2 separate regions of the Homo sapiens genome follow, and region 2 is linked to region 1. Evidence: fine-mapped QTL for protein levels in blood plasma. A gene starts in region 1. The other region holds a variant in brackets. All regions are shown on one strand. Distances are between the middles of the regions.

Region 1 (10,995 bases):
TTAAGAAGAATTACCAGAAAGGAATAAAATGGACCCCAATGTTTTTATATTTTATTTATTTTAAAATTTTAAGCAAATGAAACACTTAATATTTATTTCTTTTGCATGCCACTAGTATATTGTATTTATCTGGATTGTTTAATTTTTGAAAAGTAAATAATCCCATTAAAAATGAAGTGAACTCATGAGAGAGAGCAAGGGAAAAACTTGACGAAATCCATCAAGTATGAAGAGCCCCCAAAGACTTCCCATCCCCACGAGCTTCTGCTTCTCCTCCTTGCGAAGCTCTTTGGCTCTGCTATTGCCACCCCTACACCTGGGTTTTTGTGGGGTTTTTTGCAATCTTGACTCAAATGTGGACAAACACTTTCTTGTTTTTATTAGCACTGTCTAGATAAAATGGCATTTTCAAAAATAACTTTACAAATTAAAAAGATGACTTGAAGAAATATTCACAGTATCAAAAGAATCAATAAAATCAGTTTTAGATTGTATAATTTCTTTTCAGACGAAATTAATTAAAATATCCACCTAACTCACTAAGTACAGCTGTAAAAGTGGTTTAATGTTTTTACTGGTCCCACATCCTCCTGTCTTAAAATAAACTTTCCTCTATTCCTCAAGAGTACATTGTTATTCAATTTCTGTTTCCACACTGTGTGGTTAAAGAAAAAGTATTGAATTGTCTATCTAGCCCCTTTTCTCTGGGAACTATGACATCTCTAACCAGGGCTAACTCACCTGGAACCAGTCCTGGCCCCAAGACAACACTACAGACATGAGTCCTGAAGCTCCTTAGGGCTTCCTGTGCTGGAAGGAAGGGTTGAGGGTGGGAGAAAGCCCCAAAGGAGAGAAAGAGAATAGGATCCCATGCGGATCTCAGGCCAGGCACTACCAGCCTGGGCTGACTGCAGCCACTGATGAGAGACTTAGAAAATGTTGAGAAGGGTATTCCAAGATGCAACGGGGTGCCTGAGGAACAGGCGAGGCCAGAGACCCCATTTGGCCAGCCTTAAGGGCAGTTCTCTCTAAGCCTCTCTTCTGCATGGTCCACAAGAAAGGCTCCTGGAAGCTATTTTTTGCAATGTGATTCTGTCCGATGGTCATGTCTGATCTATGGATGGGATCAGTCAGAATCCCTTCAAAAATAAATAATATTTCAGAGAAAATTAGAAAGTGAGATGGAAAGGGATGACTGTCTACTTACTGTGTGAAAAAGAAAAGCAGAGGAAATGAGTACATTGCAGAAAAAGACTGAAACAGGGCACAGAAAGGAATATTAAGAATTCATTACGGTCGGGCGCGGTGGCTCACTCCTGGAATCCCAGCACTTTGGAAGGTCGAGGCGGGCGGATCACGAGGTCAGGAGATCGAGACGATCCTGGCCAACATGGTGAAACCCGGTCCCTACTAAAAATACAAAAAATTAGCCGGGCGTGGTGGCGGGCGCCTGTAGTCCCAGCTACTGGGGAGGCTGAGGCAGGAGAATGGCGGGAACCCGGGAGGCGGAGCTTGCAGTGAGCCCAGATCGCGCCACTGCACTCCAGCCTGGGCGACAGAGCGAGACTCCGTCTCAAAAAAAAAAAAAAAAAAAAAAAAAAAAAAAAAAATCATTACTTTCCTGAGGCCCCAGTTCAAAATTCTCAGCCTGCCAGGTGTCGTCCTTCCTACTGAATTCCAGCCACCTGCCTCAGCCACAGCCAAAGGACAAGATCCATTGAATAGTCTAGAAGACCAGGAATCAACACACTTTGTTCTATAAAGGACCAGACAGTAAATATTTCACTTTTGTGGAACACATAGGGTCTGTGTCACTTCCTCTCCTTCTTCTTCCTCTTCTTCCCCTTCCTTCCCCTCCCTCACGTCTCTACTCCTTCCTTCTTCCTGTTCTTCCCCCCCTCCTCTTCCTCCTCCTTTTTCTTCTCCCCCTAAAAAAGTAAAAATCGGCCAAGCACGGTGGCTCACGCCTGTAATCCCAGCACTTTGGGAGGCCGAGGCGGGTGGATCACGAAGTCAGGAGATCAAGACCACGGTGAAACCCCGTCTCTACTAAAAATACAGAAAATTAGCCGGGCGTGGTGGCGGGCGCCTGTAGTCCCAGATACTCGGGAGGCTGAGGCAGGAGAATGGCGTGAACCCGGCAGGCAGAGCTTGCAGTGAACTGAGATCGCGCCACTGCACTCCAACCTGGGCGACAGAATGAGACTCCGTCTCAAAAAACAAACAAACAAACAAACAAACAAACAAACAAATTAGCTGGGCGTGGTGGCGGGTAATCCCAGCTACTCAGGCGGCTGAGGCAGGAGAATCGCTTGAATCCAGGAGGTGGAGGTTGCAGTGAGCCGAGATCCAGCCATTGCACTCCAGCCTGGGCGGCAGAGCCAAACTCCATCTCAAAAAAAAAAATAAAAGTAAAAACCACACTACTCCAGGCAGTATAAAATAGGCGCGGCAGGCCAGAGGTCTGCAGATGTAGTTTGCTTACCCCTGCATCAACAGTTGTTACCAATATTTGCTGCCCATTACAATTACATGGGGATCTTTAACAAACATCCATTAGAGCCCAGGTCTCACCCCCAGATATTCATTTAATTGTTCATTAAATGTTCATAAAATTTATTTAGTAGATCCCGTCATTGGTATTTTTCTAAAAGCTCCCAGGTGAATCTAATATGAAGCCAGAGTTGAGAGCTGCTAGAACATCTGCTGAATTCACTTCTAAGCTTTGCCTGCTTTGGGATCATTCTGTATATTCTAGGGATATATCTAAGTGAACTTCTTAGCAATTATGTATTGAACTTCTGCAATACATAACTGCATGTAGAAAAGAAAATAAATCTATGAGAGATTCCATCCCAGTCTATTCCACTTGTTTAGAACTAATACCTTCTAAAAGTTTGGGCATAATAGATTGTTGAAAAGTTACCCTCATTGTTGCCTTTTCCTTGATCAGCAACAAAAAGTGACTCTAATTGTTGTTGGGGATAGGTTTGTCATGGGAGGGTGGGGAAGATTAGATATTGTTGCTGCAAATCTCTTCAAAAGATGGCACTCATTATATTTTTGTTTTTAACCATTTGTTACAAAATATTTGCAGTATTTTAGACCTCACAATTTATTTCACTAATTTTAAGTAACATTTCATGTTCCCTAATGTTTCTGACAGTTGAAAAATTTTTGCAGCACAGATGTATTCAATCCATGAGATACCTTTACTATATAAATAACAATAGCATGAGCAATTGAGTTGTTTGGTTTTACTAGATTACCTTTAAGAATCTCTGGCAATTTCCAGGTAATGTTCATATAAATCCATTCAACCCCTTTCCTTTCAGATGCTGCTACTTTCGTATACTTGTTCATACCAAACGTGAGCACAGATTCTCCCTGCCATTCCACCACACTTTACATGAAGACTCTGAGACAATAAAATGTAAATGCAACATGGCTTAAAGCTGAATACAACTGAAAGCTGCTTTGAGTTAGAGCACTCAAGTCCCACTGTAGGATTCCCTCTATAAGGTACCCACCTTCTTAGGTGCCATATTGCCCTGACCTGCTAATCTCTTCCCAATGGGAGGGCCCTTGATCAGTCATCACCCTGGAATCCAGGCTCCTGAAACCTCATATTCCATTCTTTGTTCCTAAGATATGACATAAATGTGTAGCGTAAAGGAAGGTGAGCTGAGTTAGCATATCTATTAAACTAATAGTCTGGCTTGGAAAGAATCATTTGCAGCACAGGTAATGAAGACACTACAATATGTAGCCTTTTCAAAAAAACTTCATTGTCTTTGGCTGCTACTTGAAGACTCATCACTGTACAAAGCACTTGGGATTTACACTGGCCCACTAGCCCAATGACTCTAGAGGTTGACAAGGAAACTGAAGTTCCTTCTGTGAAATGGCTTAGTTCAGGTTCTGTTCCAAAACCCCAATACTTCTGTGGTATTTCAGTATTTACATAGGACTAGAATGTTTTTAGTTTCCTAGTGCTTTTTTCTCTTTCTTTCTTTCCTTTTTTTTTTTTTTTTTTTGAGACGGGAGTTTCGCTCTGTCACCCAGGCTGGAGTGCAGTGGTGCAATCTCGGCTCACTACAGCCTCTGCCTCCCAGGTTCAAGCGATTCTCTTGCCTCAGGCTCCTGATTAGCTGGGATTACAGGCTCCTGCCATCATGTCTGGCTAATTTTTTGTATTTTTAGTAGAGATGGGGTTTCACCACATTGGCCAGGCTGGTCTCAAACTCTTGGCCTCAAGTCGTCTGCCTGCCTCGGCCTCCCAAAGTGCTGGGATTACTGGTGTGAGCCACTGCATTGGGTCTCCTGGTGCTTTTCTCTTTTTCTTTTTTTGTTTTTGAGATGGGAGTCTCACTCTGTTGCCCAGGCTGGAGTGCAGTGACACAATATTTGCTCACTGCAACTTCTACCTCCTGGGTTCAAGCGATTCTCCTGCCTCAGCCTCCCGAGTAGCTGGGATTACAGGCACTGCCACCACGCCCAGCTACTTTTTTTGTATCTTTAGTAGAGATAGCGTTTCACCATGTTGGCCAGGCTGGTCTTGAACTCCTGACCTCAGACGATCCACCTGCCTCAGCCTCCTAAAGTGCTGGGATTACAGGCGTGAGCCACCACGACAAGCCTAGTGCTTTTTTCTTGATCTATGCTTTCTATTTATCCATTTCAATAAATAATGGAGGATTGACCCTAAGGTTACTACAATGGATTATTATCCCTATTACTACTACTATCACCTTATATTTAAAACATTATCTGATTAAAAACGGAAACAAATAGAAAAGACATAGGATCCTTCAGTTGCCAGTGACAGAATCTATGTGTGAGTTATCATCAACTGTCTTTGAGGTATCAGTACTACCTCCAATTAAGCATAGACAATGGTTTCCAGGGGAATATATAAAGTCATGAGCAGAGTTTGAAGAAATGCTCCAAAGTCCCAAACGCTGTCCTTTCTTGTGGGCAAGGAAGTGGGGCCCCAGGGAGGCCTCAAAAGTTTTCTAGGGACTTAAAGTCAAAACAGTGTTCCTCTGAGTACCGGTCAACAATGCTTTGAAAGCGGATCTCAAACACACACTCATTAGAATGCAGCAGGAAGTGGTTTTATTGCTGTGAACACAGGGCAATAAAGCTTGGCAAAAGTTGCAGGGTTAGAAATCTGAATCTTTCTTTGCTGTCTTCCCTATTCCCTTCTCTCGAAAAGTACAGAACTACAAAGCAGAAAATAATCTTATTTCTTTTTGTCTCAACTCTGGTCTGGCATCCTAGGCACTCGAATTCTCCAAACACCTTTCTTCTTTCTTCTACGGGAACAAGAAAATCAACAAAAGAAAAGAAAACATGGATGCAATTGTAACAGAAGCTATGTCAAATGAAAGGAAATGCAGTGGATGCCTTAGAGAATACTATCTAAGTGTACAGGAACCAACTTGTAGGGGGGATCGCTCTTCTGAGGGGGGTCACAGGCAACAATGAAGAATTTGTACTGGGCAGCAGCACTATAGCGGCACTGGGGATACTTTCCTGAAGTGAGTCTGCAGTCAGTCATGTTGACAGGCTTTGAGCTCTGGTGGCAGTTGTGCCGACGATTTTTGCAGACAATGCTGAGCAAATCACAGACAGCAGCCACATTCTGGAAAGAGTCATGCAGAAAGGTATTTTGATGCTTACAGTGCTGGGTATAATTGTTGATGCCACTCATTGCCCTGTTGCATTGGAGAGGACTTGGCTGTATATGCTGAATTTCAAACCAGTGAGCCTTGGTGAGACGCTTAGGCCAAGCATGAAGTGGACACACTGGTCCCCATAGAACCAGCAGCAGTAAAAGAAGAGGAAAGCATAGCACCATCTTTTCTGTGTAGAAAGAGAGAAGATAGTTATAGTAGGAGAAGCAATAAGAGCAAAATTTTTAATCATAACTATTTAGATTTTTATTTTGCCTTTTAAGATTTTACAGCTCCCTTTAAAATCTTCTTTCTCACATAGTCTCACAATTCTATGAAGAACCTGAAGCCCAGGAAACAGAAATATGACCTCTCCTTTGATTGGCATATCCCATTTTCTTTCACAAGTACTCATGCATTTGATGGCTGTCATATCAGAAAGTTTCTTCCCTCTTCCCTCCTGAAATATTTACCCTCTATCTGACCACTACCTCCCAGCCGTCTTTACTGCTCTACTCGCTCCAGCCCTGAGGCTTTCTTTCTTACCTGGTCTCAGTGTTGGGGCTCCTGCTGAGAACAGAGGCTGTGATTAGTCCAAAGCTCAGAAGCTGTTGTCTGCCTTTCTTCTCTAACCCTTCGAGCCCTGTGTGTATAGGGAAGGGGAAGAAATATTCTGAGCTTTCAGAAGGAGAATCCTAGGGTTTGGCAGATTAACTTCTTGTGCAGAGTCTGGATTAAACTCTTAGACTTTCACACCTGTTCTTTAAAACAGTATCATTATCACATGTATACAGGAAGGCTAAACCAACTTAAAGAAACAACATGACTGAAAACTCACAGTTTTGAGGAACTGATCACTTCCTGATATGGAATGAGTGCTTCCTGCCTCATCTGAGGCTTCAGTGTTTTTTTTTGAAGCTTTATGATTCCTGTTTCTTAAGAGAAAATATGTCACATAAATATGATATAATGCCTGCCACATACTTGGTAATGTTGTAAGTTCCTACAACAGAAGTGAATACATTATTCATTTATGCATATACTTATTGGGCCAGGTACTAGGCTACACAAATTCAGGAGCTCATGAGTTTTTTTTTTTTTTTTTTTTGAGACGGAGTCTTGCTCTGTCGCCCAGGCTGGAGTGCAGTGGTGCGATCTTTGCTCACTGCAAGCTCCACCTCCTGGGTTCATGCCATTCTCCTGCCTCAGCCTCCCGAGTAGCTGGGACTACAGGTGCCTGCCATCACGCCCAGCTAATTTTTTTGTATTTTTAGTAGAGACGGGGTTTCACTGTGTTAGCCAGGATGGTCTCTATCTCCTGACCTCGTGATCTGCCAGGAGCTCATGATTTAATGAAAGAGATTAGAGACAGGCAGGTAAGTATATAGACAAGTAGATTATATTAATATAAATAGCACTTACAGTGTGATGGAGGACACTGCAGGAGGCTACGGGAAGATAGTAGAGGGGAAGGATTGTTGGAGGGCACAACACCTGAACTGAATTTTGAGGAATAATTAGAAGTTAGGTGAAGAGAGTGTTAAGCGCCTCCCAAAGACAGAATTGTGTATGAAAAGACCTGTAAGCCTGAAGAAGAAGGCCGAATTTAGGATATTTGCCTCTTGAATCTGTTCTTACCTTTTCACTGGTACTGCAACACCCTTATTCAGAAACTCATTGTCTTATGGAGGGCTCACATAAAAGCCTCCCACATGGACTCCTTGCCTTGTTTTTTTCTCCTTCCAATCCATTCTACATATTACTTCCAGATTAGTCTTTTTTTGAACAAGATATAATAGTACAACACTCTTGCCCCATGCTTTTATGGCTCCAAATGTCTGCAGAATAAACATAATGTCTGTTTATAGCAAGGTTGCAGGATACAAGGTTAATATACAAAAGTCAGTTGCTTTCTTATATACCAGCAATGAACAATTGCAATTTGATATTTAAAACACAATACCATTTATATTGCACCAAAGAAAGTGAAATACTTAGGTGTAAATCTAATACATTATGTAAAAATTGGTATGAGGAAAAATTTAAAACTCTAATGAAAGAAATTGAGGAAGCACAGATATTCCATGTACATGAGTAGGAATACTCAATATGTTAAGATGTCATTTCCTCTCAACTTGATCTATAGATTCAGCACAATCTCAATCAATATCCCAGCACATTATTTTGTGGATAGTGACAAACTGACTCTGAAGTTTATATAAAAGTAAAAGATTCAGGTTGGACACGGTGGCTCACGCCTGTAATCCCAGCACTTTGGGAGGCCGAGGCAGGCTGATCACGAGGTCAAGAGATCAAGACCATCCTGGCTAACACAGTGAAACCCCGTTTCTACTAAAAATACAAAAAATTAGCCAGGCCTGGTGGCGGGCGCCTATAGTACCAGCTACTTGGGAGGCTGAGGCACGAGAATCGCTTGAACCCGGGAGGTGGAGCTTGCAGTGAGCCGAGATCGCACCACTGCACTCCAGCCTGGGTGACAGAGCGAGACTCTGTCTCAAAAAAAAAAAAGATTCAGAATAGTCAACACAATGCAGAAAAAGAAGAACAAAGTCAGAAAACTGACGTGACCCAACTTCAAAACTTACTATAAAGCTACAGCAATTAAGACAGTGTGTTATTGGTGAAAAATAGACAAATAGGTCAATGGAACCAAGTAGAAAGCCCAGAGGTAGACCCACACAAATACAGTGAACTAATCTGTGACAAAGGATCAATTTTCAATTGAGAAAAGTTAGTCTTTTCAACAAATGGTAGTAGAACTGAATGTACACATGCAAAAAATAAATCTTTTCATAGGTTAGACTTCATACATTTTCATAGACCTGTACTTTATATCTTTCACAATTTTTTTTTGAGATGGAGTTTCGCTTTTGTTGCCCAGGCTGGAGTGCAATGGCATGATCTTAGCTCACCACAACCTCTGCCGCTCAGGTTCAAGTGATTCTCCTGCCTCAGCCTCCGGAGTAGTTGGGATTACAGGCATGCACCACTACACCCAGCTAATTTTGTATTTTTAGTAGAGACAGGGTTTCACCATGTTGGTGAGGCTGGCCTCGAACTCCTGACCTCAGGTGATCCGCCCACCTCGGCCTCCCAAAGTGCTGGGATTACAGGCGTGAGCCACCGCGCCTGGCACAAATGTTAATTCAAAATGGACCATAGACCTAATGCAAAATACAAAACTACAAAAATTCTAGAAAATAACATAGAAGAAAATCTAGGCAGCCTTGAGTTTGGCAATGATTTTTTAGATACAATACCAAAAGCACAATCCATGAAAGAAAAATATTGATAAGTGGAACTTCATTAAAATTGAAAACTTCTGCTCTGCAACAGATACTATTAAGAGAATAAAAAGATAAGCCAGAGACTGAGAGAAGATATTTGCAAAAGATATATCTGATAAAAGAACATTATCCAAAATATACAAAGAACTCAAAAAACCTCAACCATAAGAAAACCAACAACCTAGTTGAAAAATGGGCAAAACATCTGAATGGTATGGGGCAAAGACAATTTTTCCTCTCCCTCTGAAGGTTCAAAACTTCTGAAATGAACTGACAATAGACAGATTAACAGGAGAAAAAGGCATACAAATTTATTACTGTGCATAATCATGGGAACCATACAAATTATGAGACTCAAAGAAAGACTAAATAGTTGAAATTCATGTATTCTCTTCATAGGGGAGAGGAACATGGGGAAAATGTAGGCAATTTTGAGGAGTTTTAAATATTTTTTAGGGAACTGGCCCCAAATAGCAGACAATAGTTTGTAAATGAGTCTCTTTGGAAGCTGAATGGAAGGGTGACGAGTTATGGGAAGGTGAAGGGTGGAACTGCACTATGAACAAAGGTTGCCTTATTATACAGATAAAGTCTCTTAGGTACTCTTTTGGAGCTGCTCTTGGAAGAATAGATGAAAGGTCTATCTGAGTGTGGTGTGAAGAGACTTCTAGTCTCTTCTTTTTTTCAGGTGGCTAATATTTCCTGGTTATCTGATGAGATTTTTAGAAAGGGGGGTCTTAAGACAATTGCATTTCTTGGAAGAAGTTTTCCTTATCCAGACAAGGGAACTTCCAGAGAGAGCTCCTCTCTGCATTTGAGAGCTGGGGGAGGAATGAGAGAAGATTAGAACATCTTTGGTCCTGAGGCAGCTTCTAAGAAGTTTTGGTTTCTTTAATTCTTTAATTCTAGTTAAATTTAATTCTTTAATTTAATTTCTTTAATTCAAAAGTGCTCAGAATGCCATGCATCATAGTTTGTAGTATGATTCTCTGTACCCCAACACTTCACCAAACAAGATATACAGATGGCAGATGAGCAATGAAAAGATGTTCAGCATCACATTGTTTGGAGAAAAACTTTTCCTCTATCATTTTAGGTTTTAAAGGTGGTGGTAAAGGAGCTTGTGAATTAGAAAAAGATTAATAGGAGAAAATTCAAAGTTTATTTACACATGCACACAGGAGTATTACATAATGCGTAACTTGCTGAATAGCCAGAGGTAAAGTTATATATCAACTTTAAAAAAAGTGTTTTTGGCCAAGTGCAGTGGCTCATGCCTGTAATCCTAACATTCTGGGAGACTGAGGCAGGAGGATCACTTGAGGCATGGAGTTTGAAACCAACAGCATAGCAAGACCCCCATCTCTATTTTTTAAAAAAAGATTTGGCCGGGCATGGTGGCTCACACCTGTAATCCCAGCACTTTGGGAGGCCAATGTGGGCAGATCACCTGAGGTCAGGAGTTTGAGACCATCCTGGCCAACATGGTAAAACCCCGTCTCTACTAAAAATACAAAATTTAGTCAGGCATGGTGGTGGGCACCTGTAATCCCAGCTACTCGGGAGGCCGAGGCAGGAGAATCTCTTGAACCTGGCAGGCGGAGGTTGCAGTGAGACAAGGTTGCGCCACTGCACTCCAGCCTGGGCAACAAGAGTGAAAGTCTGTCTCAAAAATAAAATAAAATAAAAAATAAAAGATTTTTGTTGGGGCTTCAAAAGGAAAATATGGAAGGTTCTAGTAAGCTTTCTGATGCTAATAGAAATGGGTAGATTGATTTCTTCCTGGCTGGAAGTTTCCCTGTATGGGGGTTTATGGAAGCTAATTTACACATCCCAGTGCTAAGGGGCTGTCTCGTTTCAAACAGGAAAATACCTTTGAAGGGGATCAATGGCAGCTGAATTTTCAAGAGGCTCTGGTTAAGTTTAAATAGTGTTTCTTTCTGCAGCTTCTGTCTGTTCAGACATTTTCAGTTTAAAATAATTTTCATGCCACTATCATCATAACAGAT
Region 2 (10,995 bases), 65 kb after region 1:
GGAGATTCTTCCTGTACTTTCTCTCCAGCACTAGGAATGGCTATGTAATGATGTACAGTTTAACAGTTTTTGAGAATCTGATCAATAAAATGTGGCTTGGGGTCCCATCTCAGGATGAGATGGAAATCCACAGCTGACTGCCCAAACTCCTTTTGGCTCACCATAAAACCTTACCTTACTTTATCCAGAGCAAGTTCTGCAAAGTTATTGTTGATATTGGACGTCAGGATCGGCCCATGTTCTACCATGACTTTTTTACTAACATTTTGCAGTTGAACCAATCCCCTGTGACAACCCCCCTTGGGCCGATCATGTTGAAGACAACTTCAGAGGAGCTGGCTTGTCCCCACGAGGACCTCAGTGTGGCTTGGAAGGAGGAGTTGCAGAAGCTGCCACTGGACCAGGTGCAGACAGTGCTTGGGCTGCTGACCGCTATCTTGGGGACTGTCTGGGACAAACACAGTGTTACTGCTGCCACTCCACCACCCTCCCCGACAGGAGAAAGTGGTGACTTACTGAGTAACCTGTGGCAGAGTCCTAGTTCAGCCAAACTGTTGAATCAGCCAATTCCCATCCTTGATGTGGTGAGTGAGTATATCTGTTCCCTTGCCTTGGAGTGCCTAGCCCATCTCTTCAGTTGTATTCCTCTGTCTGCCGGCATCACCCCATCCCTCCTTACCACCACCTTCCACTTTGCGTGATTTGGCTGTGACATCCGTGCCAGAAAGATGGCGTCAGTTAACGGCAGCAGCCAGAACTGTGTCTCGGTTCAGGAGCGGAGCCGGCCGGGGGTCCTGGCCATGCCCTGCATCAGTGAACTCATTTCCAAGAGCTGTGTGCCGATGGAGTTCGAGGAGTATTTACTGCTTATGTTCCAGCAGACTTTCTACCTCCTGCAGAAGATCACCAAGGATAACAATGCCCACACAGTGAAGAGCAGGCTAGAAGAGCTCGATGAGAGCTTTATTGAGAAGTTTACTGACTTTCTTTGGCTCTTTGTGAGTGTTCACCTAAGAAGAATCGAGTCTTACTCCCAGTTCTCTGTGGTGGAGTTTTTGACACTTTTGTTCAAGTACACATTTCATCAGCCTACTCATGAAGGTTAATTCTCTTGTTTGGATACTGGACACTCTTTTTGGACTATCTGACAAATAAAATTAAAAGTCATCTTGAAGACAAGGAAGCAGTTCTCAACAGGTACGAAGATGCCCTGGTGCTCCTCCCCACAGAGGTGTTGAATCAAATCCAGTTCAGATACAACCAGGCCAGCTGGAGGAGTTGGATGACGAGACTCTGGATGACGATCAGCAGATGGAGTGACAGCGGTACTTACGGCAGAGCTTGGAGGTGGCGGTCAAAGTGATGGAGCTCCTGCCCACGCACACGTTGTCCACACTGTTCCCAGTTCTTCAGGGCAATTTAGAAGTTTATTTGGGATTACAGCAAGTTATAGTTACATCAGGGTCAGGACACAGGTTGAACATCATGGCAGAGAACGACTGCTGGTGGCTGCACTGCTCCCTGAGAGACTTGAGCTCCCTGCTGCAGGCCATGGGCCACCTGGCCGGGTACTTTATTGGGGATGTGTTTGCTGCATGGTTCAATGATGCCCTCACAGTTGTGGAGAGTTTGGTCAAAGTCACTCTGTATGGATCTCAGATAAAGTTGTACAACATTGAGCCAGGTGCGGTGGCTCACGCCTGTAATCCCAGCACTTTGGGAGGCCGAGGTGTGTGGATCACAAGGTCAGGAGACTGAGACCATCCTGGATAACATGGTGAAACCCTGTCTCTACTAAAAACACAAAAAATTAGGTGGGCACGGTGGCACGTGCCTGTAGTCCCAGCTATTCGGGAGGCTGAGGCAGGAGAATCACTTCAACCAGGGAGGGAGAGGTTGCAGTGAGCTGAGAACGTGCCACTGCACTCCAGCCTGGGCAAGAGAGCAAGACTCCGTCTCAAAAAAGAAAAAAAAAAATTGTGCAACATTGAAACTGATGTGCCATCAGTATTGAAACCTGACCTCATTGATGTACGTGCTCAGTCCCTGGCTGTGCTGCAGGCTTACACTCACTGGTTAGTGCAGTATTGCAGTGAAGCTCACCAGCAGAACACACAGCAGTTCGTGACACTCATCCCTATTACCATGAATGCAATCACACCTCTAATCAGCACCAAGTTCTCGAAGCAGCAAAGCCTACCGTCTACACCTTTTATCTAACTCTGTCTCTCCTTCTGTTCCTATACCCATTTATTAGAAAATCTAAATATGACACAGAGTTAGACCCATAAATCTTTCCGCTTTATAAAACTGTTATTTCATCTTCCTTTTTACTTGTAGCCCACATGCATTCAAATACAACTTTACTTTTTTGGTTATATAAGTTCCACATGCTCACTGTGAAAAACCAAAATATTGTTCAGATTTCCAGACTAAAAAGTTGTGATACCTTTGAAACATTTTCCTTCAGGCGGTACACACAGTTGGGCATTGGTTGTGCAGGCACACCTCGTTTTGTTGTGTTTCCCTTTATAGCACTTCGTAGATACTGTGTTTTTTACAAGTTGAAGGCTTATGGCAACCCTGCATTGAGCAAATCTGTCAGCGCCATTTTTTCAACAGCATTTAGTGCTTCCATGTGTCACATTTTGGTAATTATTAGAATATTTCAAACTTCTTCTATGACTATATCTGACAGTAATTTGTGGTTAGTGATCTTTGATGTTACTATTGTAATTATTTTGGGGTGCCACAAACTGAAGATGGCAAACTTGATTGATAAATGTGTGTGTTCTGACTGCTCCACTGATTGGCGGCTTCCCCACCTTCCTGTCTTTAGGACTCCCTATTCCCTGAGCCATTTAGTAACCCTACAATGACCTCTATGTGTTCAAGTGAAAGGAAGAGTCACATGTCTCTTACTTTAAAAATCTAGAAATGATTAAGCTTAGTGAGGAAGGCGTGTCAAAAGCTAGGATAGGCCAAATGCTGTTGAGCCAGTTAGTCAAGTTGCGAATGCAAAGGAAAAGTTCTTGAAGGAGATTAAAAGTTCTGCTCTAGTGAACACACAAGTGATAAGAAAGCAGAACAGCCTTATTGTTGTTGACACGGGGAAAATTTCAGTGGTTCGGATAGACCAAACCAGCCACAACATTCTCTTATGCCAAAGTCAAAACCAGATCAGGCCCTTCAATTCTCTGAAAGCTGAGAGAGGTGAGGAAGCTACAGAAGAAAAGTTGTAAGCCAACACAGGTTGGTTCGTGAGGTTTAAGGAAAGAAGCCATCTCCATAACATAAAAGTGCAGGATGAAGCAGCAAGTCCTGAGGAGAAGCTGCAGCAAGTTCTCCAGAAGCTCTAGATAAGATCATTGATGAAGGTGGCCACACTAAACAACAGATTTTCAGTGTAGATGAGACAGCTTTATAGTGGAAGAAGGTGCCATCTGGGACTCCCATAGCTAGAGAGGAGGAGTCAGTGCCTGGTTTCAGAGCTTCAGAGGGCAGGCCAACTCTCTTGTCAGGGGGCACCTGCCACTGGAGACTTCAGGTTGAAGCCAGTGCTCATGTATCATTTGAAAATCCTAGGGCCCTTAGGAATTATGCTGAATCTACTTTGCCTGTCTCTATAAATGGAACAACAAAGCCTGATTGACAGCACATCTGTTTACATCATGGTTTACTGAATATTTTAAGCTCATTATTGAGACCTGCTCAGAAAAAAAAGATTCCTTTCAAAATACTACTGCTGATTGGCAATGCACTTGGTTACCTAAGGCCTCTGATGGAGATGTTCAAAGATATTAATTTCCATAGTTTCCATGCCTGCTCACACAACATCCGTTCTGCAGTTCTGCAGCCCATGGATCAAGGAGTAATTTTGGCTTTCAAGTCTTATTACTTCAGAAATACATTTCATAAGACTATAGCGGTCATAGATAGTGGTTCCTCCAATGGATCTGGGCAAATAAATTGAAAATATTAATTCAAATAATGGAACTCATTTCACTGCACATATCATTAAGAAATTAGCCCAAGCACTAGACATAACGTGGGAATACCATACTCCTTGGCACCCACCTTCATCGGGAAGAGTAGAAAGAATAAATCAAACCGTGAAGAGTCACTTAACCAAATTAGTCTTAAAGACTCAGTTGCCATGGACTAAATGCCTTCCCATTGCCTTGCTAGGAATCTGAACCACCCCTCAAAAAGATGTTGGCCTATCCCCATATGAGATGCTATATGGGTTGCCCTATTTACACTCCACTGCTGACATTTCCACCTTCGAAACAAAAGATCAGTTTCTCAGACATTATATACTTGGTTTATCTTCCACTTTCTCTTCCCTTAGAACTAAAGGTCTTTTAGCACAGGCACCATCCCTGGAGTTCCCAGTACATCGAAATCAGCCCGGGGATCAAGTCCTCATCAAAAACTAGAAGGAGGAAAAGCTGGAACTGGCCTGGGAAGGACCTTATCTAGTGCTCCTAACTACTGAAAGCGCAGTCCAGACAGCAGAAAAAGGATGGACCTATCACACCCAAGTCAAGAAAGTGCCGCCCCCTCCAGAGTCGTGGGCCATAGTCCCAGGGGAAAACCCTACCAAACTAAAGCTAAGAAATTTTTTTTTTTTTTGAGACAGAGTCTTGCTCTGTTGCCCAGGCTGGAGTGCAGTGGTGCGATCTTCACTCACTGCAACCTCCACCTCCCGGGTTCGAGCAATTCTCCCGCCTCAGCCTTCCGAGTAGCTGGGATTACAGGCGTGTACCACTACGCCTGTATAATTTTTGTACTTTTAGTAGAGATGGGGTTTCACCATGTTGGCCAGGCTGGTCTTGAACTCCTGACCTCAAACGATCCACCTGTCTCGACCTCCCAAAGTGCTGGGATTACAGGCGTGAGCCAAGCTAAGAAAAATTTAACTCTCTTATTACTCCTTCTTCTTTCCTCATTCTATTGCTGACCACCTCATTATTAATGTAACAAAGTCAATTTCACCTCAAACTATTACATTTGATGCTTGCCTTGTTATACCTTGTGGAGACTTGTCAAGTTAAAGACAGCTCTCCAATTCAGAAAAGTACCTCTGTCCTTCCCGGCTCTCCTCAGACTGGACATTAGTGAATGGGGATCATTTAGTCTGGAGAGATTTCAATAAAGACCCCAGTATCAGCTGGGAGTCTTGCTCCTGCAAGACAGAGCTTTTATGCC[A/G]CAGTTGGTCCAACATTCTGTGGACCACTAAAGAGCAAGGATGAGCTGCCCCAACCAGTGGTTGTAATTTCCTAAAGTCATATATTCACTTTACTAAAGGAACAGCTTCACCTAGCTGTCAGCTGAACCGTGCAATCCAATACAGGTTATTATCTCAAACCCTCAAAGCTCTTCCCCTTCTCTAAGCCGGTTCCCTTCTTTAAGCCGGTTTTATGGTGTGGGGGCTGAGGTTTCAGGAACAGACCCTATCAGATCCTTTGAAACACAATTCATTGATCCTCTGCCGCCTACACCTTCCCTTAAGCCTTCTTCCAGAAGCTCTCACAACAAAACTGTTGTTCTCCTCCATCTAATGACAAGACCAAGGTAGTTATTATAGAAGTTAAAGACCTAAAACAAACTTTGGCAATTGAGACAGAATATCAAGATGCTAATGCCTGGTTGGAGTGGATCAAACATTCCATCCACACTTTAAACAAAAGCATTTGTTATGCTTGTGCGCACGGCAGACCAGAAGCCCAGATTGTCCCCTTTCCATTAGGATAGTCCTTTAGTCTACTAGGCATGGGCTGTATGGTTACTTTTTTCCAGGATTACACAGCCTGGGGTAAAAAGTCGTGTCAAGCTCTCTCTGCTATATCCTGAGGTTCAATACCCTGCAGGTCAGCCCCCAAGGTCCACTCAGCTTCTGTCCCCTGACGCTAAGTTCACTTCATATCTCTCACTACAGGGAGGAAACTTAGCATTCCTTGGAGACCTAAAAAGATGCAGTGAGCTTAAGACTTTCCAAGAGCTTACCAATCAGTCAGCCCTTGTTCATCCCCAAGCATATGTATGGTGGTATTGTGGTGGACCTTTACTGGACTCTCTGCCAAGTAACTGGAGCAGCACTTGTGCTCTAGTTTAATTGGCTATCCCTTCCACCCTAGCATTTCATCAACCAGAGAGAGGAAAAATACAACATCATAAAACAAGGGAAGCTCCTTATGGGTCTTTCAACTCCCACATTTATTTAGATGCAATTGGAGTCCCATGAGGAGTACCAGATAAATTTAAAGATCAAGATTAAATAGCTGCAGGATTTGAGTCAAGATTAAATAGCTGCAGGATTTTGTGGGTGACAATTAATAAAAACATAGATTGGATAAATTACGTCTATTATAATTAGCAGTGGTTTATTAATTACACCAGGGATGCTGTCAAAGGGATAGCAGAACAATTGGGGCCCACTAGCCAGATGGCCTGGGAAAACAGAATGGCCCTAGATGTGATATTAGCTGAAAAAGGCAGTGTTGGTGTTATGATTAAAACTCAGGGCTGTACCTTTATCCCAAGCAACACTGCCCCCACTGGGAGCATAACAAGGGTCTTACAAGGACTTACTGCTTTATCCAATGAATTAGTTAAAGATTCTGGAGTCAATAACCCTTTCTCAGGATGGCTAGAAAGGTGGTTCAGTAGATGGAAAAGATCATAGCCTCGATTCTTACTTCTCTTGCAGCCGTAATAGGTGTACTCATTCTTGTTGGGTATTGTGTCATACCATGCGTCCGTGGGGCAGTGCAAAGAAACAGCACCTACTAAAACCTCCCTTAACTTTCCTCCACCTTATTCAGAAAAGCTTTCTTCTTTTAGAGGATCAAGTCAAGCAGCAAAGCCAAGACATGTTAAAAAGGTTTGAAGAGGAAGGCCTATGAAAATTGAAAGGGGGGAGATTGTAGGATACAGTAAATTCCTCTTCAGAGTTAGCCTGTTAACTTCCTTTAAAATTCAAGATGGTGGCTGGGCGTGGTGGCTCATGCCTGTAATCCCAGCACTTTGGGAGGCCAAGGCAGGCAGAACATGAGGTCAGGAGATTGAGACCATCCTGGCTAACATGGTGAAACCCTGTCTCTACTAAAAAATACAAAAAAATCAGCCGGGCGTGGTGGCGGGTGCCTGTAATCCCAGCTACTCAGGAGGCTGAGGCAGGAGAATGGCGTGAACCCAGGAGGCGGAGCTTGCAGTGAGCCTAGATTGCACCACTGCACTCCAGCCTGGGTGACAGAGCAAGACTCCATCTCAAAAAAAAAAAAAAATTCAAGAGGGAGAAAAAAATCATTTAAGTACAATGAGTTCTGAGTTCCTCTTCAAAGAACAAATACGTCAGTATGTTCAGCTTCCCTGTTCTTTGTTCTCCATTTTGAAGTTTAACTTCCTTGTTCTTTACACCTCCTTGCCTCTAGTTTCAGTAAACAACCCCCTCCTAGCCTCTATCACCTGTTCTGTCCTTAGGCATCCTTACTCTCCTGTTCTGTAACTGTCCTTCCCTGATGAAACTACTCACCCCACCACTCCAGCTCATACACTCACTCTCTTTAAAATTTCCAACTGGAATTAGCTTAGACTGTGTGGTCCAACCCTAGCCAACAGGGGAAAGACACAGCAGTAGGGACTAGCTGCATTAGGAATAAGACGCCCTTCTCCTCCCTTGTCTGGTGTGCTCTCACCATTGCTCCATCTGAGAGATGCACCCTTCTATAGAAGTAAATTGCTTTGCTGAGAAAATTTTTGCCTGAGTGCTATTTTCACTCTGTGGCACCGAGCACTTACTTCCAACAGTTTGGTTACATTTTTTATCACCCAGCATGGGGCTATATGTCTCTACTGGTCTAGCGTGCCTGGTTTCCGATGGATGGAGCAATTGGCTGTGGCATCATGCCAGGGCTTACTCATTCATGCTACCAGGCAGAGCAACAACTTCTCATGAGGATTAGCTGCTCGTGGCTAGCTGACCTCCCAGCTGGGATTCTAGGGTTGTCCCAGCAGCTGCCAAGAACATCTTTTCCCTCCTTCCCCCTCTGTGGCATCAGCTGCCTGCAATGCTTTATTAGTATAAGGAAAATGATAGTTGAGGAAGTTGACAGGATTCAAGACTGGGTAAATCAAACCAGTTTGCATGCTAGAAATCCTCTGTCTCTGCCATTTGGGCTTTATGCCATTTGGACCTGACACAGGTCTTTTGCAGTATCAGTTAGCCTAAGATTTATTAACTTCCCAGTCTCCTTCTACAGGAATTGGTTCAGGAGTACTCTGTGTTGATCTGTGTGTTTGTGTTCTTTTGATCTCTCCCCTGAGAATGGGCAACTTGACTTCCATTCCATCTAAGTGGCCATTGGGCTGTATATTGGCTTATTGGAAAGCTTATAGCTATGAACTCATAACAAAAAAGATAATGATTTTTTTTCATTGTAACACTGTTTGGCCTATGTATGTGTTGGAATCTGAAAAATGGTGGCTACTGAACAGTGATTTACATTAGTACACCTTATTACAGTTGGCGTTATTTTGCCTAAGATCTGGGAAATGAAATGAGATTCCATGTGTTTAAGCATTTATTACATAACAAAGACTCAGCACATGAGGGGTCTATGTGAATGACGTAGAGAAAAGGGAAAAAGAGATTTCTCTTTCCAGATAGTAAGACCCAAAAGGAAGAGGATATTGATGATATGGGCCTCATAAATATCTTAAATTTCCCCTCCCATGTGGTACTGGGGGCACCAGCCCTCCCAGGATTACCAAATGTAGCCCAGGACCCGGAGAGGCCAAGGTGTCAGCTCCTCTCCCCAGGATGGGGAAGGAATAGAAATGGCTGCTCCACTTGCAGATTTTACTTGGGACCCCAACAATGGAGGAATGGCCCTGTCCAGTCATTATAAAAAGCATGTGTTGGCAGGGTTAAAGAGAAGAATGTAAAAGAGCTTAAATAAAGCCAGGGCAGTTCTCCCAAAGGCAGATGAGAACCCCTGTGAATTTCTGGAGTGCATTTACCAGGTTTACCACAAGTGTATGGACTATGATCCAGAAGCTCCTGAGAATATGAGAATGGTAAACGTGACTTTCATCCAATATTAAACGAAAACTGCAGAAACTGGAGGGGGTATTTGGAATAAACCTTTCCCAACTGCTGGACATTGCCTTCAGAGTATATAATGCCAGGAAGGCCAAAAAGCTAAAGCAAGCCATGATATACTTGGAATTAGTGGAAAGAATGTATATCCGAAAAGGAAAAACCAGGCACAGGGAGGTGGCCAGAACAAAACTCTAGGTAATGATCAGTCTGCCCCCTGCAAGGAGGAAGGTCATTGGAAATCTGAGTGCCCCAAATTAAAGAAAAGACAGGGAAACCAGAAGAAGGGAGACACAGTGACAGAGAAGAAACATACTGGCTGATGGTAAAGCAGGACTGTAGCTCAGATAGTGAAGGAGGCCCAAATCTTTTGGAGCAGGTTGTAATTTCCCCACAGGAACCTCAGGTACGATTGACAATGGGGAACAAATTGATTGACTTTTTAATCAATACTGGTGTGACTTATTCAGGTAGAAACACTAAAGAAACTGAAAGTACTAGGAAAACAGTGCCTGTGATGGTTGTCGCTGGCAAGATGCAGCAAACAGCCTTTCTCCAGACCCTGGAGAGTCTGGAGACTGCCGGACACAGAGATCTGGAGCTGAGACACAGTTTCCTCTATATGCTGGAATACCAAATTCCTTTGCTGGAGTGAGATTTGCTTTGTAAACTAAATTGCCATGTGACGTTTTTCTCCAGAAAAACAACAACTTCATCTGCAGGTCCTGCCAGAGCAAGCTTTGCAGCTGCAGATGCTGCTCACACACCCCGAGGAAGAAAAAGAATGCCTCCTGCCAGCAATCTGTGAGCAAGTAAGTAGTCATGAGGGCAGATGGGACCACAGGTAGTGCTGAAAATACACAGCCTGTGTGCACAGAAATAAATGAAGGGGCTAAGGTATTCCCCAAACACAGTGCCCTCTAAAAAGAGAGGCTTTAGAGGGGATACAACCTATATTACAGAAGTTTCTAAAAAATGGACAAATATGTCCTTACAGATCTCCATACAATGCCCCTATCCTGACTGTTAAAAACCCACACTCAAATGAATATTGATTTGTACAAGATTTGGGAACCATTAATGACATTGTTCAAGACATTCACCCAACTATGCCCATCCTTTACACCTTACTAACTGATAAACCAGGGCAGTATGGGTAGTTTTCGGTATTAGACTTAAAAGATACTTTTTTTTTTTTTTTTTTTTTTGCATCCTGATTGAAGAGAGGGACCAGATGCTGTTCACCTTTGAGTGGCAAGACCTGGAAACAAAAAACACCTTCCAATATTGTTAGGCTGTATTTTCTTAAGGTTTTAAAAACTCACCCACCATCTTTGGCAAAATATTGGCAAAGGGCTTCAGAGATTTTCAACTAGATGATGGGGTTCTGCTAAAATACTTGGATGACTTGTTAATCGCAAGCCAAGACTATGAGAGGTGCCTATCTAACACTATCTTAATCTTAAATTATTTGATATAATACGGACGTAACATATCACCTCAGAAAACTCAGATTTGTAAACAAGAAGTGACCTATCTTGGCTTCTGACTAAAAACAAGGAAAGCAGAGCTTGATGTCCAACCAGAAACAGGTGATAGCAGCAATAAAGGCCCCTGGGAATGGAAGACACTGTGGGGGGTTTTAGGTGTGGCAGGTTTCTGCTGAATCTGAATCCCTAATTTTGGACTCATAGTCAAACCTCTCTACAAGGCTCTAAAGGGATTAGATTCAGGAGCCCTAAACTGGATGGCTGAATGCCTTCAGGCATTTGATACCATCAAAAAAAAAAAAAAAAATAGTGTCAGCTCCAGCATTAGGACTGCCCAATTCTTGAAAGCTATTTAGACTCTATATCCATGAAAACCAGGGCACAGGACAGGAAATACTAATT

Direction of the effects. Alleles are on the strand shown, and positions count from the first base shown. The strength of an association depends on the size of the effect and on how common the allele is.
As copies of A replace G in region 2, the plasma level of the protein whose gene starts at base 6,295 in region 1 goes up (weak association).

What was found. PIP is the chance, under the fine-mapping model, that this variant and not a neighbour inherited with it causes the effect. Protein levels are from antibody-based Olink assays in UK Biobank. Linkage for the fine-mapping came from a reference panel and not from the study's own genotypes, which makes the PIPs less certain.
Region 2: its variant is fine-mapped to the plasma level of the RNASE6 protein (UK Biobank, PIP above 0.99).

Annotation. Positions count from the first base shown.
Region 1 is chr14:20,776,568-20,787,562 of GRCh38, reverse strand. It overlaps RNASE6 (ribonuclease A family member 6), which reads right to left and starts at 6,295. Exons shown (of 2, transcript NM_005615.5): 1 at 6,225-6,295; 2 at 5,096-5,868. The coding sequence starts at 5,863. The coding sequence ends at 5,411. The region is part of intron 1 of LOC107984671 (a long non-coding RNA gene); the gene reads left to right. RefSeq lists an enhancer at 5,151-5,220.
Region 2 is chr14:20,712,001-20,722,995 of GRCh38, reverse strand. LOC124903282 (a long non-coding RNA gene) reads left to right here and starts at 7,273. Exons shown (of 2, transcript XR_007064061.1): 1 at 7,273-9,915. It also overlaps the pseudogene RANBP20P. The variant A/G (reference allele first, on the strand shown) is at 5,212.